2 separate regions of the Homo sapiens genome follow, and region 1 is linked to region 2. The links come from fine-mapping of genetic effects on gene expression. A gene starts in region 2. The other region holds a variant in brackets. All regions are shown on one strand. Distances are from middle to middle.

The links. PIP is the estimated chance that this variant, and not a neighbour inherited with it, causes the effect.
Region 1: its variant is the best candidate, but not a certain one, in a credible set for the expression of NTAQ1 in whole blood (INTERVAL, PIP 0.72).

The regions. Positions count from the first base shown.
Region 1 is chr8:123,448,700-123,464,871 of GRCh38, forward strand. It overlaps a transcript of NTAQ1 not described here and the pseudogene LOC124902105. Among named protein-coding and RNA genes, the nearest start is that of NTAQ1, 40 kb to the left of the region's middle. The variant A/G (reference allele first, on the strand shown) is at 7,532.
Region 2 is chr8:123,406,896-123,423,067 of GRCh38, forward strand. NTAQ1 (N-terminal glutamine amidase 1) reads left to right here and starts at 9,879. Exons shown (of 6, transcript NM_018024.3): 1 at 9,879-10,037. The coding sequence starts at 9,955. It also overlaps a transcript of ATAD2 not described here. RefSeq lists enhancers at 3,425-3,925, 3,926-4,426, 10,051-10,645 and silencers at 7,340-7,540, 9,458-9,937, 10,048-10,247, 10,568-10,617.

The DNA.
Region 1 (16,172 bases), 42 kb after region 2:
AATTACTGCCCTTCCCAGAATGTTCACAAACCCTGAACACAGACGTCTATCCAGTCCTGTTGTTTTGCATGAGGTTCAGGAGCCTTGTGGGAAAGAAGCCAAATGGTCTGTGTTCTCATTTAGGGTTCAGACGTTTATAGGCTTGTCCCGTGGGCTAGAGGTCCTCAAAGATGTCTTTGCTAGAGGAGAGAAAAACATGAACAGGTCCCTGAGAGAAAATCAATGTAAGTGAAGATGACATCTGGCTGAGAGGACCAGACTAGATGATTATACATTAGAGTGTTCCTTGATGGCAGGTGCCATGAGAGATGTGCCACGGTGCACCCTTACCTGTACTCTCTTACTCTCTTGAAAGCCCTGTCTCCTGGGAAGGAAAGAAAGAACTGTGTCACTGGGGGCCCCATGTGGCTCTGTGGGAGCCTTGGAGGTAGCTGCTGATTTTCCGTAGAACAGTGGACAGCAGTGTTCTGACTGAGTCTGGTATTTTGGTGGTTGACAGCAGTACACACCATGACCAGTGGCTGGCTCAGTAGTGAAGCAGAAGCATGAGGAAGCCTGCAGGCTGTGGTTTGGATTCTCTTTGAGTCCCTTTTTCATCAGGATTTGAAAGAGAAAATGATTTACACAGGACTCTCAGACTGGTAGGGGCTTGTGTACATTCAGCATATAGCAATTAACAGCTTGATGATTTGCAGAAATTCTTCATGGAGGATGCTTATTTAAAAGAGCTGGAGGGCTGCGTGTGGTGGCTCATGCCTATAATCCCAGCACTTTGGGAGGCTGAAGTGGGCAGATCACTTGAGGCCAGGAGTTCAAGACCTCTACTGTTGCTGTATCACTGCCCTGGTGATTCAGCAGTGAGTCCTGCGCTCATGGATATTACATTCTTGTGGAGAAGACAGACAATGAACTTCTACAATGTGTGGAAGATTGGTTGCTATTTACTGAGTTGGGGAAGATTGTGGGTGGAGTAATTTTGGGGAGGAAGATCAGGAGTTTTACTGGGGGCATGTTAAATTTGAGGTGCCAGTTGGATGTCTAACAGGAGCTGTCAAATAGGAGTTGGTAGCCGGGTGTGGTAGGCGGAGGTTGTAGTGAGCCTGAGATCACATCACTGCACTCCAGCCTGGGCGACAGAGTGAGACTCTGGCTCGCTGCTTTCTCTCTCTCTCTCTCTCTCTCTCTCTCTCTCTATCTCTCCATATGTATATATGTGTGTGTATATATATATGTGTGTGTGTGTGTGTGTGCATATATATATATATATATATATATGCTGGATAAAGGGGTCCCAGAGTCAAGTGGAGAGATGTAGGATAGGAATATCAAATTGGGAGACATCTGTTAATAGATGACATTTAAAGATACAGGCCTCTATGATATCATTGAGAGAATGTGTGTGGATAGAGGAAAGGTCCAGGGACCTAGCCTAGGGAGCTTTTATTTAGGGCTTAGGAGATGGGAAGACAGATGGAATGGTCATGGAGGAAGGAGGAGAAAACAAGGATGCCCAAAGGAGAAAGTGGTATTAGAAGGGGAGAGGGATCAGCTCTGTCAGATGTTGCTGATCAGTTGAGTAAGTTGAGGACTGGGATGACCGTTGGTTTTGGCACTGTGGAGGTCTGTGGGCAATTTCAGTGGAGTGATGGGGATGACAGCCTAATTTCAGTAGGTTCAGGAGGGAACAGGAGGAAGGAAGTAGAGTGGTTTGGGAAGGGGGCAGAGAAAGGGGGTGGTACTGCAGGAGGATGTGGGTCAGCAGGGGAGACTGCTGTTTGCCAGGTTGTCAGCTGATTCTTCCATTTTGAAGAACGAATTACCCATTTCTGCCCCTCCAAGGAGACCTCTCATGACATCAAAACCTGTCTGTCCTCCAGGGCCACTGTCTCTGAAGCAGGGCAAACACTCCTCAGTTCTCACTCTGTAGGACGCTCCCTTTGACTCGATCCATCCCTTGGTTCATGCAGCCCTTCTTCAGCATTGACAGAGAGGAAAGAAAGCTGGATAACTTTCAGGGATATTTCATCCAGGTCATGGGGAAGCCTCAGGCACCACTCCAATAACTCTTTGCTTTTTTTCCTTGACCTCTTCCCACTTTGCAGTGTTTTCTTCACAAAGCAGCCAAAGTGATCTTTATTTTTTCTTTCTGCTTCATGTCTCCTTCATACAGAGTGATCTGTTAAAAACCAGACTATCTCATTCCCGTTTTCAAACAACAACAAACCACCACCACTTTGCAATGGCCTCAGCATGTCCTTAAGCTAAATATACTGTTCTACCCTGGCTCTCAGGCCCTGTGTGGTCTGGATTACGGCTGTCTCTGTGATTTCAGCTCTGCTACTGCTGGCCCATTCCCTGTCCTGCTTCCCCCGTTAGGTTTCTTTTGGTGAGCAGGACAAGCTCATTCCTTCCTCAGGGACCTCACATTCTGTTTACCCTGATCTGACCCTTTTTTTCTCCCTTATCTTCTGTTGGCTGACACTGCCTGACATTGAGGTCTGAGCTCCGAGTCTGGTAATTCTTCCCTGGTGACGTATCTAGAGCTGACTGCCCCAGTCAACATGACAGTACCCTTTTTTCTTCATAGCAGTTATCACTAACTGAAATGATCTTGCACACTTATTTGTTTAAAAGTCTGTTTTCCTTTTTTTTAAATTAAGATGGAGTCTCACTCGGTCACCCAGGCTGGGGTGCAGTGGCGTGATCTTGACTAACTGCAGCCTCCGCCTCCTGGATTCAAGGGATTCTCCTGCCTCAGCCTCCCAAGTAGCTGGGATTATAGGCATGTGCCACCACACCTGGCTAATTTTTGTATTTTTATTAGAGACAGAGTTTCATCATGTTGGCCAGTCTGGTCTCGAACTCTTGACTTCAATTGGTCCGCCCACTTCAGCCTCCCAAAATGCTGGGATTACAGGCACGAGCCACCACACCTGGTCTAAAAGTCTGTTTTCTATCTCCCTCCATTGGACTGTGAGTCCTCCCTGCCTTATTCTCCACTGTAATACAGTGTCTTGGTATCTGATACCTTATAGTAAGCACTCAACAAATATTCCTCAAGCATTCAATAAAGGAACAACTCCTGTCACCAAAGGGGTCTGGAACATCAAGTCCGCCACTCCACTGGATCTCAGGATAATGCTAGAAAACTGCTGCTAAAGTCTTGTGCTTTGAATTATTCCCGTTGACTAGATTCTATTCCTTTTTTAGATGATCTTGTCCTTTTTCAAACCGGTTTTGTCTGCAGTCCCTTCAGCCTTAACTCCAAGCCCTACTCTTCCACCTTTTGGTGTGAAAAGCACGTTATGAATGACTTTTGCAGAGAGCAAAGAACACCATGGATTTATTTAATTAGTTCTCTCACATTCTTGGCAGGCACCTCATTCCAGCCTCTTGTCACAAACGCAGATATGGAAAGCACCATGTCTAGTGTCTGATATTGAGAGCAGGAGCTCACAGTATACTTTTCCCCTTTGCTCCAAGCTGACCACTCAGCCTAGCACCAGAGAATGAACTATGTCTTTTACCCTGGCAGTCCAGGGAGAATGTGGCTTTGGCCCTGAGCTTTACAGCAGGTATCTGTTCAGGCCAGGCTTTTAATAACATCCATTTATTGGTCAGGCACAGTGGCTCACACCTGTAATCCTAGCACTTTGGGAGGCCAACGCCGGTGGATCACTTAAGGTCAGGAGTTCAAGACCAGCCTGGCCAACATGATGAAACCCTGTCTCTACTAAAAATATGAAAATTAGCTGGGCATGATGGCAGATGCCTGTAATCCCAGCTACTTGGGAGGCTGAGGCAGGAGGATCTCTTGAACCCAGGAGGCAGAGGTTGCAGTGAGCTAAGATCGAGCCATTGCACTCCAGCCTGGGTGACAGCAAGACTCGGTCTCCACACACAAAAATAAAATTTTAAAAGGCTGGGCACGGTGGCTCATGCCTGTAATCCCAACACTTTGGGAGGCCTAGGCGGGCGGATCACCTGAGGTCAGGCATTTGAGACCAGCCCGACCAACATGGAGAAACCCCGTCTTTACTAAAAATACAAAAAAAAAAATAGCCAGGCATAGTGGCGCATGCCTGTAATCCCAGCTACTCGGGAGGCTGAGGCAGGAGAATTGCTTGAACCCGGGAGGTGGAGATCGCACCATTGCACTCCAGCCTGGGCAACCAGAGCGAAACTCCCTCTCAAAAAAAACAAAACAAAACAAAACAAAAAACAAAATTGCATCCATTTATTATCAAGGGAGCACTCATAGCAGAACTTCACTTAGAGTCAATAGGCAATCTCTCCTGAGGTTTCCATGGGGACCTGGAGTTTTAGAGCAATTTCTGGGAAGAACATTGGAAGGAAATTGTGGGGCAAGATGTTAATACAGTCACACCGTTCTGGCACACGCTGTTTCTGCAGCCGTAAGTGACGGTTGAATCAGTTCCCACTCAAGGCCCACAGGATGCAGAGCTATGTTTGACCTCCTTGGGGCCAGATGCTGAGGAGATCTTGTCCCTGCCCCTGGAATACAGGAAAAATAAGTTCAAGTCCTTGGCCCCCGTTACAGTTTTGCATTTGCTAGTGACATACTGTGTGACCTTGGGAAAGTCACTTAACCTCTCTGGGCCTTCCTTGCCTCACCTAAGAATTATTTTGAGGCTCAAATGAGATTGTGTGTGTGTTGGCAGGGAAGAGAATATTTCATACACCGAAAGGTGAAGTGTTTTGTTGCTTTTTTTTTTTTTCTTTTTTGGAACAGAGTTTTGCTCTTGTCACCTAGGCTGGAGTGCAGTGGCACGATCTCAGCTCACTGCAACCTCTGCCTCTCAGGTTCAAGTGATTTTCCTGCCTCAGCCTCCTGAGTAGCTGGGACTATAGACACCTGCCACCATGCCTGGCTAATTTTATATTTTTAGTAGAGACGGGTTCACCATGTTGGCCAGGCTGCTCTCGAATTCCTGACCTCAGGTGATCTGCCTGCTTTGGCCTCCCAAAGTGCTGGGATTACAGGTGTGAGTCATCGTGCCTGGCCCCAGATAGCTCATCTAAGCTCTTCATGTGTATGAACTCAATCCTCAAAACAACAATATAAGGTAGATACCATTATTCTCCTCATGTTACAAATTAGGAAACGTAGGCACAGTAAAGTAAAGTGACTTATAGAAAGCCACATAGCTAGTGAGTGGTGGAGACAGGATTTGAATCTAGGCATTCCCACTCCAGGGCCTGGCTGCCATCCAATTCCCAGTTCACCCAGTTCCAAGTTCATGCCCACATTCTGTAATCAGATAATGGGTCACTAGCAAGGTGCTGTCTGTTGTAGGGCAGGAGTGGGTCACTGAGCTTCCCCATGGTCGGGATGAAGTGTCCTTCACAGCTGTCCACCTGAAGTAACTTACCCTGTAGTTACTGCAAATAAACTTTATCAATAAATGTCAAACTTGTTAAAAAGGCAAATGTCCAGAACCTCCCTGAGTGGTTCTGGTTTAGTAAGCATCCCAGTCAGGTCTCAGCGGCAGAGAACAGAAATTGCTTGCTACGTGAATCCAAAAGGCATTTGATTCAAAGTGATGGAGACGGGAAACAAACATCTAGAGAAACAGTCATTCATAGTGAAGTTCTGCTATAATTGCTCCCTTGATAATAAATGGATGCAATTTTGTTTTTTGTTTTGTTTTGTTTTGTTTTTTTTGAGAGGGAGTTTCACTGTGGTTGCCCAGGCTGGAGTGCAATGGTGCGATCTCAGCTCACCACAACTCCACCTCCCAGGTTCAAGCAATTCTCCTGCCCCAGCCTCCCGAGTAGCTGGGATTACAGGCATGCGCCACTATGCCTGGCTAATTTTTTTGTATTTTTAGTAAAGACGGGGTTTCTCCATGTTGGTCGGGCTGGTCTCAAACGCCTGACCTCAGGTGTAGCAGTCGGAGATGCACTCACTTCTAGCCTTGGTGCCCAGACCTGTGAACTCTGGCAGTACTGTCACTGGTTCAGAGCATCTACTACATCTTATGGGACAGAACCCCAGTGTCACCAGGTGGTGTCTGCCAGCGGATACTGTAGCTCAGTCTCCAATGGGCCATTCATTCTACCATCAAGAAGATCACCTACCCCTGGGGACCACGGTAAGATCAGAGCATCTGGGGGGTACCAGCATATGGACCCATTTCTTTTGCTGTGAATGGATTTGTGATCAGAAGCAATGTGGGTGTCTGGCGTTGTGGCAGTGGATGAGGCATTCATTGAGTTGGTAAGTTGCTGGCAGAAGCATGGTGATTAGGAAAAGGAAATCCATGTGTGGAAGAAGTGTTTATTCAAGGGAGGGGAAAAGTCACCTGTCTTCCATTTTGTTTTCAATTAGCAATAATCACGCCTCGGATAAACCTCATTGGCTATGATACTGCCACACGCAAAGCTCTGTCTTCCCTTTTGGAAGGGATGCCTCATAATTAAGATGCCATAGCTCAGCCTTGGTCTCCACTTAGGGCTTCAGCAGAGAAGGCAGCTGAGTCAGCTCTGGTGAGGGAAAGATGGTGATTGAGTCCATGCACACCTCCGTCCCTGCCGCCATGGCTGCTTGGTTCGTGGGCCTACAGTATAAACATGGGCACTGTCGGTGACTTGCACAGAGGAGTCAGTCCACATCCTGGTTCTTTAGTGCTGTTTCCAGCGAGGACCTGTAGTGAGCAACCACTTGTGTTACCAATATCCTCAAACCCCATGCCCAGAAATTTTTTTTTTTTTTTTTTTTTTTGAGACGGAGTCTCCCACTCTCGCCTGGCTGGAGTGCAGTGGTGCAATCTTGGCTCATTACAACCGTCGCCTCCTGGGTTCAAGCGATTCTCTGCCTCAGCTTCCTGAGTAGCTGAGACTACAGGCGTGTGCCACCACGCCTGGCTAATTTTTGTAATTTTAGTAGAAACAGCGTTTCACCATGTTGCCCAGGCTGGTCTGGAACCCCTGAGCTCAGGCAATCCACCCTCCTTGGCCTCCTAAAGTGCTGAGATTACAGGCATGAGCCACCGCGCCCAGCCGAAATCAGCATTTTAATAGCCAGACTCACTCCCACTTCCCCACCCGGAAGTCTACTGCAGGTGTTCTGGGACCATGTATCATGAAATATGGATTTAGGTATATTGCTAATTTTAAGTGTAATTAGGCTGTTTTTAGTAAGTGGGTAAACTTTAGCACCTTTCCAAAGTGGTGGCTGGTGTGGCTAATTACAGAAAGTGGCAAGAGAGGTCAGGAACTGTATCTCAGCCCATTCATGTTTGGTTGTAAAATGTGCTAATACTCTTGATTTAGGCATCTGGTCAGGTGGGGGAATATTGACTTTCTCCAATCTCTGGATTTTAAGAGCATCTTTTTAGGTCTGATCCTTATGACAGGGCTCAAGTTAGTGGCCCTCCCCAAAAAGGGTGATATTTAGGTTCTTGCATCTCCAATGCCAAACCCCAGTGGTCATGACATTGCATTGCAGAGGTTCCTATAATCTGACGGTTGTTGTATTTCTGGATAAACCCTTTGTTAATGATCATCC[A/G]GCTTGTTCCTTATGCTTTTGAATATTGAGAGAACTTATATATTGCAAGGATTTTTGTTGTTGTTGTTATTTTGAGACAGAGTCTTGCTCTGTCGCTCAGGCTGGTGTGCACGATCTTGGCTCACTGCAGCCTCCGCCTCTGCAGGGATTTTTGTTTCGAAACTTGGAACCCAAGATGCACATCTTAAATATCTAAGGCAGCAGGCATTTTAAAGTAAACAAAGTCAAAAAAGTGTGGCTGAACTTGATTCTGTAATTACCTCATTGCGGGAACTAATAATTCCTGTCAGTTCTGAGCAATATTAATCCTTACAGGAATTACACCAGAATAAAGTATATGTTTGGGCACTTCCCCAAGTATCGAAGGCACCGTCAGGAGTTGTTTTACATGATTGCCTCAGGGGAAACAAGAGATAGTTATGCTTTATATATTTTTAACAAGAACTGTCACTTAAATGAGATCCTTTTGCTTTCCTGTCTTCTGTCACTTAAATGATTTTTACACCTGTTAGACTTCTAGGCATCTTGGAAACTTTCAGAAACAAACGAATCAATTTTTTTCAATTTCTGTGGAGGACAATCCAGATATTTATCTATAGAAATGACCTGTGACCATCCCCTTTGACTTAGGAATTCGTCATCTAGGAATTTATCTTACAGATATATACTGCACGCATATAAAATGGTGGATACACGAGGAAACTCATTGTAGCTGTGGGCATAACAACAGGAAGTTGGAAACCATCTGTAGGCTTATCAACTGGGGGCTGATGAAATGTTTATGTTTCTTAAGCTGAGTGATGGCTTAAAATTTTTTAAAAAATCTATCTATACATATAGATATATATATTTTTGAGACAGAGTCTCCCTCTGTCACCTAGGCTGGAGTACAGTGGCACAATCTCGGCTCACCGCAACCTCTGCCTCCCTGGTTCAAGCAATTCTCCTGCCTCAGCCTACCAAGTAGCTGGGATTACAACTGTGAACCACCATGCCCAGCTAATTTTTGTATTTTTAGTAGAGACGGGGTTTCCCCATGTTGACGAGGCTGGTCTGAAACTCCTGACTTCAAGTGATCCGCCTGCCTCGGCCTCCCAAAGTGCTAGGATTACAGGCATAAGCCACTGCACCCAGCCAAAATTAAAAAAAAAATCTTAAACATGATATAAATATTCTTTTGTATGTATTAGTTGGTGCAAAAGTAATTGCAGTTTTTGCCTTTACTTTCAAATTAAACCTATATTAAATATGTAATAAACCTATATTATATATGTAATACAATTAAATTTAAAGAGCAAGTGGAAATCTGTACTAAAAGATAAAAACGTGTATTTGCTTATATTTGTACAGAATATCTATAGGAATATCCAGTATCCAGTACCAAATTGGTAATATTGGTTGCTTCTGAGAAGAGAACTGGGTGGCTAGGGTCACGGGAGGGAGGGAAACTTCATTGTGTACCCTTTTGTGTTTTTAAGTGTTGTAAGCCCTGTGAATATATTACTTATTAAGGGTAGAATTGACTGGGCGCAGTGGCTCACGCCTGTAATCCCAGCACTTTGGGAGGCCGAGGCGGATGGATCACCTGAGGTCAGGAGTTCAAGACCAGCCTGACCAATATGGTGAAACTGCATCTCTGCTAAAAACACAAAATTTAGCTGGGCGTGGTGTCATGTGCCTGTAGTCACAGCTACTCGGGAGGCTGAGACAGGAAAATCGCTTGAACCCGGGAGGTGGAGGTTGCAGTGAGCCAAGATCATGCCACTGCACTCCAACGTGGGCTACAGAGCAAGACTCTGTCTCAAAAAAAAAAAAAAAAAAGATTTAAAATAAAAAAAAAAAACAAATAAATCACACTTCCCCTCACTGTTTTTTTTTTTTTTTTTGTAGAGACAAGGTCTTGCTATGTTGCCCAGGCTGGTCTGGAACTCCTGGACTCAAGCAATCCTCCCACCTTGGCCTCCCAAAGTGCTGGGACTACAGGCATGAGCCACTGTGCCTGGCTAACTTTTTTTTTTTTTTCAAACAAACACAACTTGAAACAAGTATAGCCTCAGATGTTCTCTCTGATCAAAGTTTCATTGACCAAGAGCAAGAAAAGCCAAAAGAAATTATTTTTCTGTTATACCGCTCCGAGCCTGTTTGTTTACCAATTCTAACCCTTTGATTGGGCTGCTGTGAGTGAAAGTGAGACCTTGAAATTGTGAGTCTAGGTGAAACCATTAAACAGCTAAGTAGCTGTCTGTGTGCTGGTCAGGGGTGTGTTTCTGTGGCATATATGGCATTAAGCTGCGATCTGGGTACAGAAATGCTCAGAAAGCCCATGAGCTCATGCGAAGAGAGAAAACCTTTTTAGCAGATGTGTGAGACAGGAAAAATAGTTGGTACTTTCTTTCTTTTTTTTTTTTTGAATCGGAGTCTCGTTCTGTTGCCCAGGCTGGAGTGCAACGGCGCGATCTCGGCTCACTGCAAGCTCCGCCTCCTGGGTCACACCATTCTCCTGCCTCAGCCTCCCGAGTAGCTGGGACTACAGGCGCCCGCCAGCACGCCCGGCTAATTTTTTGTATTTTTAGTAGAGATGGGGTTTCACCGTGATAGCTAGGATGGTCTCGATCTCCTGACCTCGTGATCCACCCGCCTCGGCCTCCCAAAGTGCTGGGATTACACGCGTGAGCCACCTCTATTAAAAATACAAAAAAATTAACTGGGCATGGTGGCATGCCTGCAGTCCCAGTTACTCCGGAGGCTGAGGCAAAAGAATTGCTTGAACCCAGGGGGCGGAGGTTGCAGTGAGCCGAGATCGTGCCACTGCACTCCAGCCTGGCAACAGAGTGAGACTCCGTCTCAAATAAATAAAATAAAATGAAAAAATTAGCCAGATGTGGTGGTGTGTGCCTGTAGTCTCAGCTACTCAGGAGGTGGGAGGATCTGTTTGAGCCCAGGACGTCGAGGCTGCAGTGAGCCGTGATTATGCCACTGCACTCCAGCCTAGGTGACAGAGTGAGATCCTGTCTCAAAAAAAAAAAAAGATGTAGATGAACAGCCAGATGAAGAGATCAGGTGTGGAAGGGTCCTGAGTGCAGGAGCTTCTGTCCCCATGGAGTTGGGGTGCACCACCCTCCCAGCACATGGACGTGTTCTGCTATCCGGAAGCTCTCTGAACCCCATAGTTCAGTACTTCGGCTTCATCAGGTAGGCATGATGGAAGATTAATTCAGTCTCTAGCCCTTCCCCATCTCTAAAGAATGGAGGATGGGGCTGAAAGCTCCAAGCTTCTAATCATTGCTTAGTCTTTCCAGTGAGCAGCCCCTGTCCAGGAGCTCACCAAGAGTCCCCTTATTAGAAAAAAAGATGTTCCTCAGAAAAATTCCAAGGGATTCAGGAACTCTAAGTCAGGTGTTCCTATTACTCAGGAAATCAAAGGTTTAAGAGCTCTGTCTCAGGTACCTGGGGCAGAGACCCAATAATTCCAACAAAAGTTTCTCCTAGAACCCCTATTGCTCAGGAAATCACAAGGGTTTTCGAAGCTCTGTGCCAGGAACTTGGGGTGGAGACCAATATACATCATTCTTTTTTTTTTTTTTTTTTTTGAGATGGAGTTTCACTCATTGCCCAGGCTGGAGTGCAATGGCACGATCTCAGCTCACCGCAACCTCCGCCTCCTGGTTCAAGCGATTCTCCTGCCTCAGCCTCCCAAGTAGCTGGGATTACAGGAATGCGCCACCATGCCTGGGTAATTTTGTATTTTTAGTGGAGACGGGGTTTCTCCATGTTGATCAGTCTGGTCTCGAACTCCCAACCTCAGGTAATCCGCCTGCCTCGGCCCCCCAAAGGGCTGGGATTACAGGCATGAGCCACTGCGCCCAGCCCAATGTACGTGATTTTTATTTCACAGCAGATATCTCTTGATTTCTTTAAAAAAAAAATCTTAAATAGTACCTTGAGAGAACCCCTAATGACAGATAATATGTATGGAGTACTCATTTTGTGCCAGGCACTGCTCAAAACTACTTATTGGGCATGAAATTATTAGTCCTTACAATAACCTTATGAAGTAGGAATGATTATTATCCTTATTTTTCAGATGAAGAAATGGGAGTGGGCAACTTGCCCAAAGTAGCACAGTTAATATGTAAAGGAATGTGATTTGAACCTGGGCCTGACTCCAGAATCACTACACCATAAAGTGGAGATTCAGTCACACTGGAATAAATCCAAAGGCAAAATGAGGGCATTGCTTCTTGTGCTGGTCTTGGGTCTAAGGAGGGGCATATTGCAGAGGTGAGAGCCAAGGGGAAAAGATGGAGTGGGCTGTCTGTGGCACACGGGATGTCTTTACTACTGGACAGCCTTGAACCACAAGATGTGATGTAGGGCTGAATCTTGTAGGAAAAAAGCGGTCAGGGTAAGCTCTTCAACATCAGATGTGAGAAGACCAGCGTTTTGCAGTGTCCTTTGGCTGTGGTGGACAGGTTTGGGCTGGCAGAAGGGTCAGTGGAGACCAGCTGGGGGAGACCTGCATGCAGTGGCAGGGGGTTGGGAGTGAAATGAGGGAAGAATGGACTTGGTAGGTTTGGTTTGACGACGTAGTGGAGTTTGTATTGGCTGAACGTTGCAAAGGAAGCAAGGAGAGAATAATAACATGCGCCAGCATCCAGAGATGAGTTGAGGAGGCGTGCCGTCTGACTTCTACATTCAGGCACATTTCACACTTCTGTCAGGTACTCTGCTCTGAGCTTTTGGAATCTTTCTTTCATGTATTCCTCCGTACAGTGTTTGCAGGTGGTGTATGGATGCTGTCAATCCCTGCTTTCCATAGGCACCCTCCTTACTATTCCTTGCCTAAGTGACCTAACACACTTGGTCCTGGCTTGGGCAGGCGGGAAGCATGGAGTTAATACATTCTGGAGCAGCCTTCAGCCCTGATGGGTGGGAGTAGGTGGATAAGTGGCTTAGCTTTCTTGCTCCTTGGAGGGTACAACTCTGGGCTAGACGCTGCACCATCTCCCAGGGTCCCCAGCAGCCTTGGTCCCCAGCTGCCCACAACAGCCTATCCTCTTGGCACCTGCTCAGTGACCTGGCTGGCTTCCTTGTTCCTTGACTCACGTCCCCACTCCCTACTGGTGTTTCCTAGGATCACCTACCAAATAAACAACTTCTACCGAATTTCCTGTCTCAAGGCATGCATTGGGGAAACTCAACCCAATGCAGTTTCCAGATGATAATATCTACACCCCGAGAGGTTATTTCACTTGCTCAAGCTCACATATCCAGTATGTAACAAATCTAGGACTTTAGCCCAGCTTTCCTTAGCCCCAGCCTGGTGTTGTCTTCTGCTCTACCATGCTTAGTATCTGCTATAATGACACCCTAGGTCCTTTCACATGTTGGGCTTTCCTGCAGGAGTCTGGCCTATTAGACCATAAACTCATAAAAAGCAGAACTATGACCTTGATAACTTTGTATATTCAAGAACAGCAGGAACTGTGTCTTTCAGCGAGTAGATGCTTAATAAGGATTTATTGAAAGGAAAGGAGATAGAGCAAGAGGAAGTATGTGAGGGGAAGAGGAGATGGGAGCATGAAATTGGGGCAGAGGAGAGAGACTCTTGTGCTCCTTCTTGACATGGGGCACAAGAGTGACTTGCTTTGGAGGAGGCTATGGCTAGAGTGTCACAGGCAAAAGCCCAGGAGGCCCACGGGTGAGCAGAAAATTACAGAACTTAAAAAATCATTTTTCTTGGAAATAATGTGTGAGACAGGGAAATCTAGTGAAAAAATATTTTTCAGTGCATGTATCCCTAAAAGGGAGGTTTTCTTTTTAAAAATTTTTTTTAAGACAGTCTCGCTGTGTCACCCAGGCTGGAGTGCAGTGGCGTGATCTCAGCTCACTACAACCTCCTCCTCCCAGGTTCAAGCGATTCTCATGCCTTAGCCTCCCGAGTAGCTGGGACTACAGGTGCATGCCACCACGCCTGGCTAATTTTTTTGTATTTTTAGTATAGAAAGGGTTTCATCATGCTCTCCAGGTTGGTCTTGAACTCCTGACCTCTTGTGATCTGCCTGCCTCAGCTTCCCAAAGTGTTGGGATTACAGGCATGAGCCACCGTGCTGGGCCTGTGTTTTGTTTTTAATATGAGATTAGTTATTATAACTTTGTAGAAAGAACATTGGGTGGATTTTCTCAGCAGAGTTAAGTCTACAACTCAGATACTCTAGGGCAGTAGTTTTTGAAGTACACAAGGCACTAGGACTTCTAAGGCACTCTCTTAGAAGCCTCCTCAAAAAGAAGGAGATGATAATAATTGATTACTACTTATTGAATTCTAATTAGACCATGTGCCAAGCCCCATGCTAAGTCTTGGTCTGTGTTATCTCATTTAATCCTCTTTGATATGAGTCCTGTTATCATTCCCACTTCACAGATTACGAAGCGGACACTCAAAGAGGTCCCCCAGCTAGTAAGTGGCCAAAGTGGGATTCATTTGACTGTTTGACTCCAGAGCTCATGCATTCATGGGCATGGCTACAGGTACCCTTCTCTTCACTCCTTCCCCAAGCATGCCCCCAATTCACCAGAATTGAAACTCAAGATTTTGACACCATAGAGAGCAAACTGGGGAACAGGAACTACACTGTTGGTTAGGACTTGGGAGAAGATAAATTAAAAAGTCTGACACTTTGATCACGTTCTGTAAAAGTCTTGGGGCTTTGCTTTCCCACTGTGAAGGGCATTTTGAAATACATCTTAATGAATGCATTCTGCTCTCTTGGTACACCAGGGGGAGCATTTAGTACAGGAATGGGAATACGGTGGCTCCAGGAAGTGACTATTCCTGCTCTTTGTAGGGAAGAACACTTTTTCTTTCTCTCTTTCTCACTGAAAAACACATTTTTCTGTTTGAACAGTTTGAAAGCAAGTTGCAGATATCATGAGACTTCACCTATAAATACTTCAGAAGGATTTCCTAAGAAAGATATTCTTCTGCTTTATGATGATATTATTATCACGTCTAAGAAACTTAACATTGATGCAACAATGATGTCTAATATGTGGTCTGTATTCAAACTTCTCCAGATATCCCCAAGATGTTCTTTATTGCTTTTTTTGGTTTCAATCCAAAATAAATTTTGTGTTCTCTTAATATTAGATCACAGTTATTCTTCTGGAATATTTTGCTGTGAAATGCTTATACTTTTTACCGTCTATTGAATAACTCATAAAGTTGATTTGCCATGCTTTATTAAGTTTCTCTTTGATTGATATTGTTTATTCCTATTATAAGTATACCATGATGTTAAGTGGGACTTCCCATTTCTCAGTTTTGACTCAGGCACCAATTAAATAGATATCAGAATCCAAAGTGAGTGTGAGATTGACGTGGTATACAGAATTCATCAAGTGTCACAGGTTAGGTTCCTCGTAAAAGGCTCTTGATGGACATTTGTATGGAGGCAGTTTATTGGGGGAGTGTTTGGGGCTCAGCAGCTAAGGGGGAAGAAAGGAAGCAGGATGAGACACAGGGAGGTGTTGAACTGTGATGCAATCCCTACTCAGCCAATCCCCAGAGACCTCTAGAGCTGGGATGGTGATATTTGGTTGTGTCCCCACCCAAATCTCATCTTGAATTGTAGCTGCCATAATTCCTACTTGTCGTGGGAGGGACCTGGTGGGAGGTAATTGAATCATGGGGGCATGTCTTTCCTGTGCTGTTCTCATGATAGTGAATACATCTCACGAGATCTGATGGTTTTATAAAGGGGACTCCCCCGCACATGCTGTCTTGCCTGCCGCCATGTTAAGACGTGACTTTGCTTTTCCTTCACCTTCCACCATGATTGTGAGGCCTCCCTAGCCATGTGGAACTGTGAATCCATTAAACCTCTTTCCTTTATAAATTATCCTGTCTCAGGTATGTGTTTATTAGCAGTGTGAGAACAGACTAATAGAGATGGTCTTGCAGAGTTGTTCCCTTCTGGAGCAAGGAGGCTGGGTCTTTATACCCCTAAAGGGACCAGTCAATGGATGCAGGTTGCCCCTGGGACAGAGATGTGATCACGGTAACTCCCTTCAGCTTAGAGCAATTTTCAGAGAGACTTGGAATAGAAATGAGGGCCTGAAGGGGATATTTGGGCAGGGACCACAGCATCCATAACAGCAGGGAAATGCTCGTGAACATGTTGCCTAACCCTGGATGCCCTCAGACTGAATACACGAGAGGTCAGAGTGGCAGCGGCATGAGGAGGAGGAAGGGTAGAGAGACGCCACTGGAGAGAGCATTGCCAGGCTGTGCCTCCACTCTCCCTCCCCAGGGGTAAGGGCCAGGAGTGCTACCACCTTCACCTCAAGGGTACGATGGGGGCTCTGATAGGACCACATATTTAACTTACATATTTCCTATGGTTGAGAAATATGTAACTGGCTAGAGTGGCCTGTGGCAGCAGGACACAGAGGGCTGGGTTTGGTCCTGTGTTCCCAGGGTTTGTTGGGGCAAGAGATGAGAGAGTGTTTCCTGGGACTTAAATGTGGGCCCTTGGCTGGGCACTGTGGCTCACGCCTGTAATCTCAGCACTTTGGGAGGCGGATCACTTGAGGTCAGGAGTTCGAGACCAGCCTGGCCAACATAGTGAAACCCTGTCTC
Region 2 (16,172 bases):
GATATAAACCTCCCCTTGTGAATGTGATCTGATTTGGAAATAGGATCTTTGCAGATGTAATTAAAATCTCGACATGAGATTATTCTCGTTTATGGTGAACCCTAAATCCAATGACTAGTGTTCTTATAAGGGAAAGCATAGAGAGATTGGTGCATACAGACACAGAGAAGGCAGTGATGTGAAGACAGGCAGAGATTGCAGTGATGTGTTTATAAGCCAAGAAATGCCAAGGTTTGCCAGCAACCACTGCAAGCCAGGAGAGAAGCATGGAACAGATTCTTCCTCCAAATCTCCAGAAAGAATCAACCTGGCTGACGCTTTGATTTCAGACTTCCAGACTCTTGAACTGTGAGAGAATACATTCCTGGTTTTTAAAGGTTACCAAGTTTGTGGTAATTTGTTACATATAGCACCCCTGGGAAATGTATATAGTACAGTTGGTCTGGGATTGGTCTTCTCTTGGTGACCAGTTCTATCTTTTCTAATCTTAACTATTCTAGTTAGGAGTGACTTGATTTAGGAAAAAAATAATAATAAGGCAGTAGAGGCTGGGTGTGGTGGCTCACACCTGCAATCCCAGCACTTCGGGAGGCTGAGGCAGGTGGATCATCTGAGGTCAGGAGTTCAAGTCCAGCTGGGCCAACATGGTAAAACCCCATCTCTACTAAAAATACAAAAATTAGCTGGGTGTGGTGGCGGGCGCCTGTAGTCCCAGCACTTTGGGAGGCTGAGGCAGGTGGATCACTTGAGATCAAGAGTTCAACCTGGCCAACATGGCAAAACTCCATCTCTACTAAAAATACAAAAATTAGCTGGGTGTGGTGGCACACGACTGTAATCCCAGCTACTCGGGAGGCTGAGGCAGAAGAATTGCTTGAACCTAGGAGGCGGAGGTTGCAGTGAGCCAAGATTGCGTCACTGCACTCCAGCTTGGGTGACGGAGTGAGACTCCGTCTCAAAAAAAAAAAAAAGAAACGGAGGTTCTTGTTGGTAACCCCTAATTGCTTCAGAAAGACTCAAGTGTTCTTACTTCATGTGCTACAGAAACGAGGCTCAGGTAAGAGCTAATCATGATTCCACTACCTCATTTGGGATGAGGTCATAGGTGGGTCCCTTTCTGTTCTTTGGTAGCAAAATTAGAAAGTAAACATTAATTTGGACTGGGATTTCTTTTAGGAATGTTGCAAATGTGAGCTTACTTAAATTGTATACCAAATCTTATTGATTTCCCACAAAAGAAGAAAAAAAATTAATTGAATGGAGGTGGGGAGACATTTTGACATTTGCCATATATTAGCTATTCTATTCCATGTTTTAACTATATCCCAGATTCCCCTTCTGTCTGGGAGATTTTTCTCTTTGGGTGGGTTTGGTTTAGGCAGGGCCCAGCCTCCTTCTGTGGAAATCCTACAGGGAAATACACTTCATTTCCCTGGAAACCTGGCAATAAGGATTCAGGCATGTGACCTTGGACCAGCCAATGGGCTGCTCCTATCTGAGGCATTTATTTCCTCTGGGAGGAATGACCCAAAGATGCGGGGCAGAGATTATTCATGGTGGCAGAGCAAAGGATACAGAGCCATGGCATTAATGGTGGTCTCCCCTCCCGTCCCCTCCCCTCCCTTTCCTTTCCTTTTTGAGGCAGAGTTTCACTCTTGTCGCCCAGGCTGGAGTGCAATGGCACGTTCTCGGCTCACTGAACCCTCCGCCTCTGGGGTTCAAGCTATTCTCCTGCCTCAGCCTCCCAAGTAGCTGAGATTACAGGCGCCTGCCACCATGCCCGGCTACTTTTTGTATTTTTAGTAGAGACAGGGTTTCACCATGTTGGCCAGGCTGGTCTCAAACTCCTGACCTCAGGTGATTCACTCGCCTCGGCCTCCCAAAGTGTTGGGATTACAGGCGTGAGCCACCGTGCCCGGCCTGGAAGATATATTCTTTTTTTTTTTTTTTGAGACGGAGTCTCGCTCTATCACCCAGGCTGTAGTGCAGTGGCGCCATCTCAGCTCACTGCAACCTCCGCCTCCCAAGTTCAAGCGATTCTCGTGGCTCAGCCTCCTCAGTAGCTGGGACTACAGGCGCGTGCCACCACGCCTAGCTAATTGTTGTATTTTTAGTAGAGACGGGGTTTTGCTGTGTTGGCCAGACTCATCTAACTCCTGACCTCAGGTGATCCACTCGCCTCTGCCCCTCAAAGTGCTGGGGTTACAGGTATGAGCCACGGCCCCGGCTGATATATTCTTATAATGTGGTTTTCAGGCCTTACCTCTCTATTGACCTCTCCCGAACATACATAGTTTAATTTCTCAGTTTTCCCATGTAAGGTATGGTACACAGCAGTGAGTCTAATACCACAAGTATGGACCTGCTTCCCACCCCAATATAATTCAGATGGGTCTCATATTGTGTTTCAACCCAGCCAACTTCCCACCCCCAGTGATAAGGACTCTACCCTCTGAGTTCACATAGTACATTGCTGCCATAGCACAAATTGCTTTGTATTGAAATGATCGCTTTAACTTGGGAAAATAGCATAATGCAAATCAGATAAATGCAAATTAGAATAACAGTGGGAATGTCAGGGTTTTGATTTTGTTTTGCCAATTTGTTTTTCTTTTGAGACAGGGTCTCACTCTGTCACACAGGCTGGAGTGCCGTGGCTGAATCATACCTCACTACAGCTTTGATCGCCTGGGCTCAGGTGATCCTTCTGCCTCAGTCTCCCAAAGTGCTGGGATTACAAGCTTGAGCTACTACACCCATTCTAGTTTTCGTTTTTAAATAATAATCCTTGGCTGGGCACAGGGGCTCGCGTCTGTAATCCCAGCACTTTGGGAGGCTGAGGCAGGTGGATCACCTGGGGTTGGTTTAGTTTTGTACTAAAAATACAAAAATTAGCCGGGTGTCGTGGCACACATCTGTAGTCCCAGCTACTCGGGAGGCTGAGGCAGGAGAACTGCTTGAACCTGGGAGGTGGAGGTTGCAGTGAGCCGAGATTGCACCACTAGACTCCAGCCTGGGTGTGACAAGAGTGAGACTCCATCTCGGAAAAAAAAAAAAAAAAAGCATTAAAAGCACATCCTTCCAATAAAAAAAGCTTTAAAAAAAACCTTTTGTTATTAAAGCTCAATATACTGTGTGCTGTGGATTCCCTGGATCTCCTTTTACATGTCTGTGGCCTTTCTTATAATTTCCTCTGTTATTGATCTCTCTTCTAAACACCTGCCCATTAATATCTTAATTTCACTGGACACAGGTTTCTTTGAGTAGCATTTCGTATTTCTTCCTTAACCAGATCATTGGAGTTTGTAGGTCAGAATCTGGTTCTAACCATCTCCTACTCTTCTGAAACCATATCCGTTTTTATAGTTTCTATTGTAGGATCATATTATTTATTTATTTATTTATTTATTAGCAGAATTTTGCTCTTGTTGCCCAGGCTGGAGTGCAATGGTGTACTCTCAGCTCACGGCAACCTCCACCTCCCAGGTTCAAGCGATTCTCCTGCCTCAGCCTCCCGAGTAGCTGGGATTACGGGCATGCGCCATCACACCTGGCTAATTTTGTATTTTTAGTAGAGACAGGGGTTTCTCCATGTTGGTCAGGCTGGTCTCACACTCCTGACGTCAAGTGATCCACCCGCCTTGGCCTCCCAAAGTGTGGGATTACAGGTGTGAGCCACCATGCCCAGCCTATATGTTTTTTATGATCTATTTTTTTCAATCTAAAAAGTAATTCCTGGGCAACCCCCTTTGGGTCCCCTCCCTTTGCATGGGAGCTCTGTTTTCACTCTATTTCACTCTATTAAATCTTGCTACTGCACTCTTCTGGACCATGCTTGTTACGGCTCAAGCTGAGCTTTCGCTCGCCGTCCACCACTGCTGTTTGCTGCCGTGGCAGACCCGCCACTGACTTCTATCCCTCCAGATCCGGCAGGGTGTCCGCTGTGCTCCTGATCCAGCGAGGCGCCCATTGCCGCTCTGGATCGGGCTAAAGGCTTGCCATTGTTCCTGCATGGCTAAGTGCCCGGGTTCATCCTAATCGAGCTGAACACTAGTCACTGGGTTCCACGGTTCTCTTCCGTGACCCACGGCTTCTAATGGAGCTATAACACTCACCGCATGGCCCAAGATTCCATTCCTTGGAATCCATGAGGCCAAGAACCCCAGGTCAGAGAACAGGAGGCTTGCCACCATCTTGGAAGCGGCTTGCCACCATCTTGGAAACTTTGTGAACAAGGACCCCTGGTAACATTTTGGAGACCCTGAAGGGACCTCCAAAGCGTTTGTCTCTTCCAGAATCAAAGCTGCAAAACTACAAATCATTCTTCAAATGCAGCCCCAGATGCAGTCTATGACTAAGATCTACCGCGGACCCCTGGACTGGCCTGCTAGCCCATGCTCCGATGTTAATGACATCGAAGGCACCCCTCCCCAGGAAATTTCAACTGCACAACCCCTACTACGCCCCAATTCAGCAAGAAGCAGTTAGAGCAGTCGTCGGCGAACCTCCCCAACAGCACTTGGGTTTTCCTGATGAGAGGGCGGACTGAGAGACAGGACTAGCTGGATTTCCTAGGCCGACTAAGAATCCGTAAGCCTAGCTGGGAAGGTGACCGCATCCACCTTTAAACACGGGGCTTGCAACTTAGCTCAAACCCAACCAATCAGAGAGCTCACTAAAATGCTAATTAGGAAAAAATAGGAGGTAAAGAAATAGCCAATCTATTGCCTGAGAGCACAGCGGGAGGGACAAGGATCGGGATATAAACCCAGGCATTTGAGCTGGCAACGGCAACCCCCTTTGGGTCCCCTCCCTTTGTATGGGAGCTCTGTTTTCACTCTATTTCAATCTATTAAATCTTGCAACTGCAAAAATAAATAAATAAATAAACAAATAAAAAGTAATTCCTGCTTATAATAGAAAGTTTAGAAACAGAAAAAAAAAAGCACAATATGGCAGATTAGAAACTGCTGGCTATCTCTCAGTATGCATTCTCCCCTTCTTGCTTGAGACACTCAAATAATACCTGCACTGCTCAGAATAAACTGTATGTTTCCTGATCTCCTTTACACCTGGATGTGATCCTGTGAGCATCTTTTGGTCAGTGGAATGTGAGCAGAGTGATGTGCATAACCTGCAGATTTTGTCCTTGAACCTCCCACTACTCCTTTTCCCTGGTCTTACCAGTCAGAATGCAATCAGCAGGTAGGGTGGCAAGCCATCTTCAGCCACGCGAACTAGGGCATCACTCTAGATATGGCCCCCAATAAGACATCAGGAGCCTGGGTAACAGATATTGCAGAGACACTATATCAGCTCTAGAATGTATATGCTCAGGCTGTGGAATGAGAGATGCATTTGTATCTCATTTAAGTCACTAATATTTTTGGATTTCTTTGTTACAGCAATGTCACCTGTATTTTAATTAATAAAAATATCAATTCAACAAGGATTTATGCCAACTACAATGCTTACACCCTGCTCAGAGCTATGTGATAATAATCATAACTGCAAAATTATGTAGTTTTTTTAAGTTATTTTATTTATTTTTTAAGAGATGAGGGTCTCACTCTGTTGCCCAGGCTGGAGTGCAGTGGCGTAATCACAGTTCACTGCAGCCTCAAACTCCTGGGCTCAAGCAATTCTTTTGCTTCAGCCTCCTGGGTGCCTAGGACTACAGATACCACCATGCCTGGCTAATTAAAAAAAATTTTTTTTTTGTAGAGACAGGGTCTTGCTGTGTTGCTTAGGTTGGTCTCAAACTGACCTCAAGCGATCCTCCCGCCTTGGTCTCCCAAAGTTCTAGGATTACAGGGGTGAGCCACTACACCTGGCCTATGTAGTTGTTTATTACGTAGGGTACTGAGTACTGCAGAACTCTCAGCACAACTTGGTTCCAAATCCCTGCACTAACAGACTTGACCAAACTCTAGCATGGCTTCTAGCAGTATAAGGCTATGTCAGCCTTCTCCCCCAAACCCCCCATTAAAATGCCTGCTTAAGAAAGCTCAAAGCTCCCAGGAAAATTTACTATTTGTTGTTGCCAGTACCTGATGATAGGCCCCTGACCTCCTTTTCTTAGAGCATTTACTAAAAGGGCTTAGAATTGTAAATATGTATTACTTACAACTCAGAAGTCCTTCTCAAGGACTTAGAGAGCCATTCCTTTGAAATGTAATCATCAGGAAGGATAGGGCCTCTGACTCCCAGTCTCTGTGGGAGGATAGAATCCTAACTTAGATAACTGCCAGCTAGCAGACACGACTGGCCTAATGGTATTTACACTGACCAACCCTTTGTAATTTTCACTTCCCTGGCTCTAATGAGCGCCCCCCCCCCCCCAACTCCTCCCTGCTTCCTCATTCTTCTTTCCAAATGCCCAAATTACCTCTGCACAATTGGAATGGAGCTCAGCTCTTTCCCCTACTGTCAATAGTTGCTGAATAAAATCTGTTTTCATCGCTTTGACTGATGGTCAACGGCTATGTTTATTTTTGACAGTACCTATGTTCTGCCAGGCACTATGCTAAGTGTTTTGCAGAGATTAGTTTATTTAATTTTCACTGCAGCACCCATTAGATAAGCACTCTACTATTATTATCCTCATTTTGCAAAGAAACTGACGCTCAGAAATCCTAGTGTTACTTATCCAAGGTCACTCAGGGTAGTAAGTAGCCAAGATAAGATTTGAGTGTGTTTCTGACTACAGCACTATTTATACTATTCTACCTCTCAGGGCAAGACCCATGCCCTGGAAGAGCTCATGGCAGAGGTAGAGACAGATTGAGTTGCTGAGCATGCTACTGCTTTTCAAGACATATGAATAAAAGTTGTGACAAAACAGGAAAAAAAGCTCCAGGAAGATGGAAGCCAACAATAAACTCTTCCTGGGAAAAGCTGCAAATAAGGCATGTGAAAGAATGCATCAGACAGAGTGTACATACATCTTGTGCAAAGGCTTGGGGTATCAAAGGAAGAATAAGACACTCAGTGACAAGAGTATGGCGGCGGGGAGGGTGGCCGAGGCGGGCAGATCACTTGAGGTCAGGAATTTGAGACCAGCCTGGCCAACATGGTGAAACCTCACCTCCACAAGAAAATACACAATTTAGCTGGGGTGGTGGGGGCGGAGGTTGCAGTGAGTCAAGATTGCACCACAGCACTCCAGCCTGGGCGACAGAGTGAGACTCTTATCTCAAAAAAAAAAAAAAAAAAAAAAAAAAAAGTATAGGGTATGCGGGAAATAATGAAATCAGATTTTTTTAACAAAAAATCATAGTTGCTAACATTTATATTATATGCTACCAACTATTCTAAGTACTTTATATACATAAACTCAACTAATCCTCATAATGACCCTATGAGGTAGTAGCATTATCTTTAACTTCATTTTACAGATGAGGAAAGTGAGACACAGAAGAGTGAAGTAACTTTGCCCAAGGTGACCCAACTGGCAAGTTGTAGAACCTACCCAGCCTAGCTTCAAAGTCCTATAGTAAGTAGTTTGTGCCCAATCAGGATAAGAAACTACACAGTAGGTCAAGCAAGGGAAGTTAAATGTAAAGAACTATTAATTATGTTAGCTGCGCACGGTGGTGCGTGCCTGCAGTCTCAGCTACTCAGGAGGCTGAGGCTGGAGGATCACTTGAGCCCAGGAGTTTGAGGCTGTAGTGAGCTATGATTGCACCACTGCACTCCAGCCTGGGTGACAGAGGGAGACCCTGTCCCCCACCAAAAAATTATTATTAACTATGATAAAGGCATAACGATAACACATAAGGAAACTCTATTCAGTACCTTACCGTATAGAAGGTAGGGTTAGGGAGGACCCTGGTTTTTGTGTCAAGAGGCTGAAGAAAGGTTATTGCCAGGCTAAACCTGCAAGGTTAGGAAGGGACCATGTTCTGAGTCTGGGGCTGGGGCAGACTCCACAAGGATGTTCTCACCACTACACCTGTCCCACTCACTTTAAATGGAGCATTTAGACCATTTACATTCAATGTTAGGATTGACTTGTGAGGTACCATTCCATTCATCGTGCTTTGTTGCCTGTGTACCTTGTTTTTTTTTGTTGTTTTTTAAATTGTATTTTTGTTGTATAGGTCCTGTGTGATTTATGCTTTAACGAGGTTCTGTTTTGATGTGTTTCCAGGATTTGTTTCAAGATTTAGAACTCCTTTTAGCAGTTCCTGTAGTGGTGGCTTGGTAGTGGCAAATTCTCTCACCATTTGTCTGAAAAAGACTGTATCTTTCCTTAATATATGATGCTTAGTTTCGCTGGATACAAAATTATTGGCTGATAATTGTTTTGTTTGAGGAGGCTAAAGATAGGGCCCCAATCCCTTCTAGCTTATAGGGTTTCCCACTCACTTTAAAGGAGAAATGTTTACCAGAGTTGTTATATAGCATAGAGGCTATGTGGAAGTTTGTATTAGGAGCTGAGAGGCAATAAAATTGGTAATTGACACAGGAACTGTGCTCCAAGTCTTTAGGATTTATCAGCTTTGAGACTGAAGAGATTGGAGAATCCAACTGTGGATGGCTAAAATCAATGTAAACATCTCAGTTTTTATAATGGGAAGTACCCTGATTAGCTAGCTATGCTCATTGCAAATATAAACAATTCAGAAGACTGTAAAGTGTAAAGACCTTGAAACTGAAAGTCCCTGATATTAATATCATTCATTCACCAGAGATAAACACTATTTTTTTTTTTTGAGACGGAGTCTCACCCTGTTGCCCAGGCTGGAGTGCAATGGCACCATCTCGGCTCACTGCAACCTCCGCCTCCCGGGTTCAGGCGATTCTCTTGCCTCAGCCTCCCGAGTATCTGGGATTACAGGCGCGCGCCTCCACGCCCAACTAATTTTTGTATTTTTAGTAGAGACGGAGTTTCACCATGTTGGCCAGGCTCGTCTCGAACCCCTGACCTCGTGATCCACCCGCCTCGGTCTCCCAAAGTGCTGGGATTACAGGCGTGAGCCACCGCACCCGGCCCTAAACACTATTTTAACAATATGGTGTCTTTTCTTCCAGACTGCCAGTAATTGAACAAAATATATGATTAACACAAAAAGGATACCATATGGACTCTTTAAACTTTTTTTTTTCAAATTTACTGTATCAGGGAATTAATATATCTTTTCGAGCCAATAGCTACAGGCCTTCCAATTTAAAAGATTAAGTTACAATAGAGTGAGATTTGGGGTGCTATCCCTTTCGGAAAGCGTCCTCGATGCGGTCATATTGGAATTAACCTCCACTCCCCTCTTCTCTGGGCTCCCGCAGACTCCAGGCTGAGTGCAGAAGCGTGGATTTTCACACCCAAACCTCTGTTATTTCAGTGTCTCACCTGGCTTCTCCACAGCGCAGAAGCTCAGCCCCTGGTTGGAAGAGCCTCCCCGCGGAGATTCACAGCAAAGCGCCATTCAGGGCCCAACTCCAAGCCCAAACCTAGCTCCTCCCCAAGCCGCCGCCAGAGACCCCTCTTCTCCCAAAGCTCACCGGGGCCCCGCCCCTGACTCCGCCCACCAGAGCCCGGTCCTCCAGTCCCGCCCCATCCCGGGCCCCACCCACCAGCCGGGCTCCGCCTACCCGGAAGCGCGCTGTCCTCCTCGTCCCGGGCTCCGCCCACCGGGAGTTCGCGCCACTCACCCCACCCCGGACCCGCCCACTTCGCTTGGGCTCCACCCTCCCAGGAACTGGCGCCGCTTGCCCCGAGCTCCGCCTACTTCGTCCCGGGCTTCCCGCGCCGGGAACTCGTGCTGCTAGTCCCGCCCTGGCCCCGCCCACCGCGCTACTGGCCCCACCACCCGGAAACTGCCCCGGCCCTCTCCCCCCGGGCTCCGCCCACCCCACGCCGGGAACCCACGCGGGCCACTACAAGCCCGCCCTTTCCTACGTCTGGTCCAGTCGGTCTTCCTCCGGCCCGGGCCCTGGCCCAGCTAGCCGGCCATGGAAGGTAATGGCCCCGCTGCTGTCCACTACCAGCCGGCCAGCCCCCCGCGGGACGCCTGCGTCTACAGCAGCTGCTACTGGTGAGGGGGCGCGGGCGCAGCCTCTGGGTCTCCCAGGCTCCCGGGCGGCGAGTCGCAACCGGGCCCCGCCTCTTCCCGGCCCCTCCTCGGGGGCGCTCCCGGCCTCTACCGGCGGGTTCTACAGTTTTGCGGGAGGAGGGAGCGGGAATGGCAGCTCTCGTCTCTTGAGTAGAGCGTGGGCTATTGGATGGGGTTGGGAATTCGTCCGGAATCATAGGGTCGATAGTGCATTACCTGTGCCTGGCGCTTGTCGGTTGGATTTGCTCAGCAGATCTCTGCTTCGGGGCCAGGAAGGGTGGAGCTCTGAAAATCTTTGGGGGTTACTCTGCTGAAGCCTGTGGGGTTTCAGACTGAGGTGAAGGTCATTTTAATTTTGTAAGAGAATGAAGGCACGGAGAGTTTTTCATACAGCACTTGCTATATGCCACGCGTTGTTCTGGGTGGTTTAGGTAAACTAAATCACTGAGCATCACAATAACCGTAAGAGGTAGGTATTGTTATCCCCAGTTGAAAGATGAGAGCACTGAAGCACAGAGGGCTGCAAGTAATTTGCGCAGGGCCACGTAGCTTGTGAATGAAGGAGTGGGGATTTACAGTCAGGGTCTGGCCCCGGAATCCACGCAGTGCACCCCTGTCCTAGGCCACCTCTGCAGCTGAAGTACCGCCCTTGCCTTAGTCCTCATACCTACTCTTTCCTGAGTAATGGCTTCTTCCCCAGCTTCTAGTCCTTGTACAGGAAACCTCAGTGCTATCTAAACCTACTCCTCCCCCTTCTGCTGGTCACTAAACCAATGCCACCAAGAGCTTAACATTTGTTCGGCCCTGATTGCATGTCAGGCTCAGTGGCAGGTGCTTCCATCGATGTCCAGGAGGTACCTTCTTTTATTATCGTTATCCTCATTTTACTAATAAAAAGACTGAGCCACAGAGAGGCTGTTCTGTGCCCCCAAATCACACATCTAGCAAGTGGTGGTGCTGAAACTGGAACCTCTTCGTGATTCTGAAGTTCATGCATCTTAACTACTGCACTATTTTTCTGTCCTGCCTCTCTTCTAAATCCCGTTAGTTCTCCTCCCTAATGTCCAGTCATTGTTTTATTCATTCATTCAATAAATGTTTATTAGGCACTTGGAGTATGTGGCATACTTCTGGGCACTGGGGATATAGCAGTGAACAAAATCGACAAATTCCCTCATGGATCCCTTGGTTCTTTCATTTTGAGAGAAAAGCAGATAAGGCCCGGTGCGATGGCTCACGCCTGTAATTCCAGCACTTTGGGAGGCCGAGGTGGGCGGATCTCTTGAGGCCAGGAGTCTGAGACCAGCCTGGCCGACATGCAGAAACCCTGCCTCTACTAAAAATACAAAAATTAGCCAGGTGTGGTGGCGTGCACCTGTAATCCCAGCTACTCGGGAAGCTGAGGCAGGAAAATCGCTTGAACCTGGGAGGTGGAGGTTCCAGTGAGCTGATGCCACTGCCCCTTCCTGCCTGGGCAACAGAGCAAGACTCCATCTCAAAAAAAAAAAAAAAATAAAAAGCCAAAAAAACAAGTAAACCATGTTTGGGTGATGTTAAATACTATGAGAAAAATAAGATAAAGGATGGTGACTTATCTTCTATTAGGATATTTTGAGAAGACATTGTTGATAAGGTGATATTTGAAAAGAGATCTGAAAAAAGAGGGTGGGAGCTTTGCAACTATTGGAGGATGGTTGTTTAAGCAGGGAGAACAGCAGGTACAAAGGCTCTGAGAAGGAATGGTGCTGTGAGTGTGATAGGAACAGTGAGGAGGCTGGTACAACTGGAGTATTGGAGTTAGAGCAGTCTTGTAGAAGAATGGTAAGAGATGACCACTCTACCACAGAGTTTCTCCATCTTGGCTTGAGTGACATTTTGAGCATGATAATTCCTTGCTATGGAGGCTGTCCTGTGTATTGCAGGACGTGTAGCAGCATCCCTGGCTTCTACCCACTAGATACTGTTAGCACCCTAGCCCTAGTTATGACAACCAAAAATGTCTCCAGACATTGCTAAGTGTCCTGTAGGGGTTGGGGGGCAAAATCGCCTCTTGCTGAGAACCAGTGCTCTACCCTGTCTGAACACATCAGGTGGGGACACCACACTACTTTGGCTCCTGCAGCTTTGGGGGTTTTTTTTTTTTTTTTTTTTTTTTTTTTTTTTTTTGAGACAGAGTCTCAGTCTGTTGCCCAGGCTGGAGTGCAATGATGCCATCTTGGCTCACTGCAGCCTCCACCTCCCAGGCTCAAGCCATTCTTCTGCCTCAGCCTCCTGAGTAGCTGGGACTACAGGCACCCACCACCATGCCCAGCTAATTTTCGTATTTTTAGTAGAGACGGGGTTTCACCACATTGGCTGGGCTGGTCTTGAACTCCTGACCTCAGGTGATCCACCTGCCTCAGCCTCCCAAAATTCTGGGATTACAGGTGTGAGTCACCGTGCCCGGCCATCCTGCAGGTTTTTTAAGTTGAAATGAATGCCTCCTGTCTACTTCTGTTAGCTTCCGTCATGTTAGCTTCCAGATGTTACTTACGCTTCAAGACCCTGCTTAATGATAATAGTGGCAGCCAGTATTTGTTTGGGACTGTGTCGTCAGCAGAGCATTTCTGATTCTGACTTAATTGTTTTGTGTTTTTCAAACAATTGTGGAGTGCCTGCTTTGTGCCAGGGGTCCTCCCCATCTGCATGCATCTCTGACCTCAGCTCATCACTGGGAACCCCTGGAGTGTCCCAACCTTTCTGCTGCCAAGATGATCAGCTGACAGCTTGGGGCAAATCCACAGCCCTCCCTCCCTCCCTCCCTCCCTTCCTTCCTTCCTTTCTTCCCTCCCTCCCTCCCTCCTTCCTTCATTCCTTTCTTCCCTCCCTCCCTCTCTCCCTTTTTTGAGTCCCTTATGCTTTTGTTTAGAGTTTAAAGAACATTTCAGATATTATCCAATCACATATTTTGTTTGAGTTTTTTTCCCTTCCAACTTTTATTTTAGATTTGGGGTTACATGTGCAGGTTTGTTACATGGGTAAAGTGTATGTGTTGGGGGTTTGGTGTACAAATTATTTTGTCACCCAGATAGTGAGCATACTACCAGATAGATAGTTTTGATCCTCACCCTCCTGTCACCCTCTACCCTCAAGTAGGCCCCATGTCTACTGTTTCCTTTTTTGTGTCCATGTGTACTCAAGGTTTAGCTCCCACTTATACGCAAGAATATTCAGTGTTTGCTTTTCTGTCCCTGTGTTAATTCACTTGGGATATTGGCCTCCAGCTCCATCCATGTTGCTGCAAATGACATGATTTTTGTTCTTTGTCATTGCTGTGTAGTATTCCATGGTGGATGATATATACCACATTTTCTTGATCCAGTTCACCATTGATAGGTGCCTAGGTTGATTCTACATCTTTGCTATCATGAATAGTGCTGTGATGAACATATATGTGCATGTGTCTTAATAGTAGGATTTATATTCCTTTGGGTATATACACAGTAATGGGATTGCTAGGTCGCATCATAGTTCTGTTTCAAGTTCTTTGAAAAATCTCCAAACTGCTTTCCACAGTGGCTTAACTAATTTACATTCCCACCAGGAGTGTATAAGCATCCCCTTTTCTCCACCAACTTGCCAGCGTCTGTTATTTTTTGCCTTTTTTTTTTTTTTTTTTTGAGACAGGGTCTCACTCTGTCACCTAGGCTTACAGTGCAGTGGCATGATCATGACTCACTGCAACCTCAACTTCCTGGGCTTAAGTGATCCTCTCACCTCAGCTTCCTAAGTAGCTGGGAGTACAGGTGGGCATCACCACTTTTTTGACTTCTTAAATTATTTTTATTTGTTTATTTTTATTTATTTATTTATTTATTTAAGACGGATTCTTACTCTGTCACCAGGCTGGAGTGCAGTGGTGCAATCTAGGCTCGCTGCAACCTCCGCCTCCTGGGTTCAAGCGGTTCTGCTTCAGCCTCCTAAGTAGCTGGGACTACAGGCATGCACCACCATGCCCAGCTAATTTGTGTATTTTTAGTAGAGACGGGGTTTCACCATGTTGGCCAAGATTATCTTGATCTCTTGACCTCTTGGTCTGCCTGCCTCGGCCTCCCAAAGTGCTGGGATTATAGGCATGAGCTGCCGTACCCGGCCTATTTATTCATTTTTTTGAGACAGAATCTCACTCTGTCACCCAGGCTGGAGTGCAGTGGTGCAATCATGGCTCACTGCAGCCTCGACCTGGTGTCAATCAATTCTCCCACTTCAGTCTCCCGAGTAACTGGGGCTACAGGTGTGCACCACCATGCCCAGCTAATTTTTATATTTTTTGTAGTGTGGGGTTGTGCCATGTTGCCCAGGCTGGTCTTGAACTTTTGGGCTCAAGCAGTCTTCCTGCCTTGGCCTCCCGAACTGTTGGGATTACAGATGTGAGCTACTGCACCTGGCCTGACTTTAAGAATAGTCATTCTGACTGGAGTGAGATGGTATCTCATTGTGGTTTTGATTTGCGTTTCTCTAATGATTAGTGTTGTTGAGCATTTCTTCATATGCTTATTGGCCATGTGCATGTCTCTTTTTCCTTTTTTTTTTTTTTGAGATGGAGTCTTACTCTGTTGCCCAGGGTGGAGTGCAGTGGCTCGATCTCGGCTCACTGCAACCTCTGCCTCCCAGGTTCAAGTGATGCTCCCAGCTGAGCCTCCAGAGTAGCTGGGATTACAGGTGTGCACCACCATGCCCAGCTAAGTTTTGTATTTTTCTTTTCTTTTTTTTTTTTGAGACGGAGTCTTGCTCTGTTGCTCAGGCTGGAGTGCAGTGGCGTGATCTTGGCTCACTGCAAGCTCCGTCTCCTGGGTTCACACCATTCTCCTGCCTCAGCCTCCCGAGTAGCTGGGGCTGCAGGTGTCCACCACCACACCCGGCTAATTTTTTGTATTTTTTTTTAGTAGAGACAGGGTTTCACCGTGGTCTGGATCTCCTGACCTCGTGATCCGCCTGCCTCGGCCTCCCAAAGTGCTGGGATTACAGGCGTGAGCCACCGCGCCCAGCCTAAGTTTTGTATTTTTAATAGAGACAATGTTTCACCATGTTGGCCAGGCTGGTCTTGAACTCCTGACCTCAAGTGATCCACGCGCCTTGGCCTCCCAAAGTGCTGAGATTATAGATGTGAGCCACTGTGCCTATCTGCTTTTGAGAAGAAGTATCTGTTCATGTCCTTGGCCTATTTTTTAATGGGGTTGTTTTTTGCTTGTTTATTTAAGTTCCTTATAGATTCTGGATATTAGACTTTATCAGATGCATAGTTTGCAAATATTTTCTTGCATTCTGTAGGTAGTCTGTTTTTTGTTTTGGGTTTTTTTTTTTGAGACAGGGTCTCACTCTGTCACCCAGGCTGGAGTGCAGTGGCACAATTATAGCTCATTGCAGACTTGACCTCCCAGGCTCAAGTAATCCTCTCACGTCAGCCTCCCAAGCAACTGAAATTAGAGATGTGTGCCAGCATGCCTGGTTAATTTTTTTTACTTTTTGTGGAGACAGGGTCTCTCTATGTTGCCCAGGCTCATCTTGAACTCTTGGGCTCAAGTGATCTTCCTGCCTGGGTTTCCCAAAGTGCTGGGATTACAAGCACGAGCCTCACCATGCCTGGCTGTAGGTTGTCTATTTACTCCATTGATAGTTTTTTTTTTTTTTTTTGCTGTGCAGAGCTCTTTAGTTTAATTAGGTCTCACTTGTCAATTTTTGTTTTTGTTGCCGTTGCTTTTGGAGTCTTCATCATGAAATCTTTGCCAGGGCCTATGTCTGGAGTGGTATTTCCTAGGTTTTCTTCTAGGGTTTTATAGTTTTAGGTATTACATTTAAGTCTTTAATCCATCTTGAGTTGATTTTTGTATATGGTGAAAGGGAGGGGTCAAGTTTCAATCTTCTGCATATGGTTAGCCAGCTATCCCAGCATCATTTATTAAATAGGGAATCCTTTCCCCATTGCTTGTTATTGGACTTTGTTGAAGATCAGATGGTTGTAAATGTAAATATGCGGCTTTATTTCTGGGTTCTCTAACCTGTTCCATTGGTCCGTGTGTCTGTTTTTGTACCAGTACCATGCTGTTTTGGTTACTATAGCCTTCTAGTATAATTTGA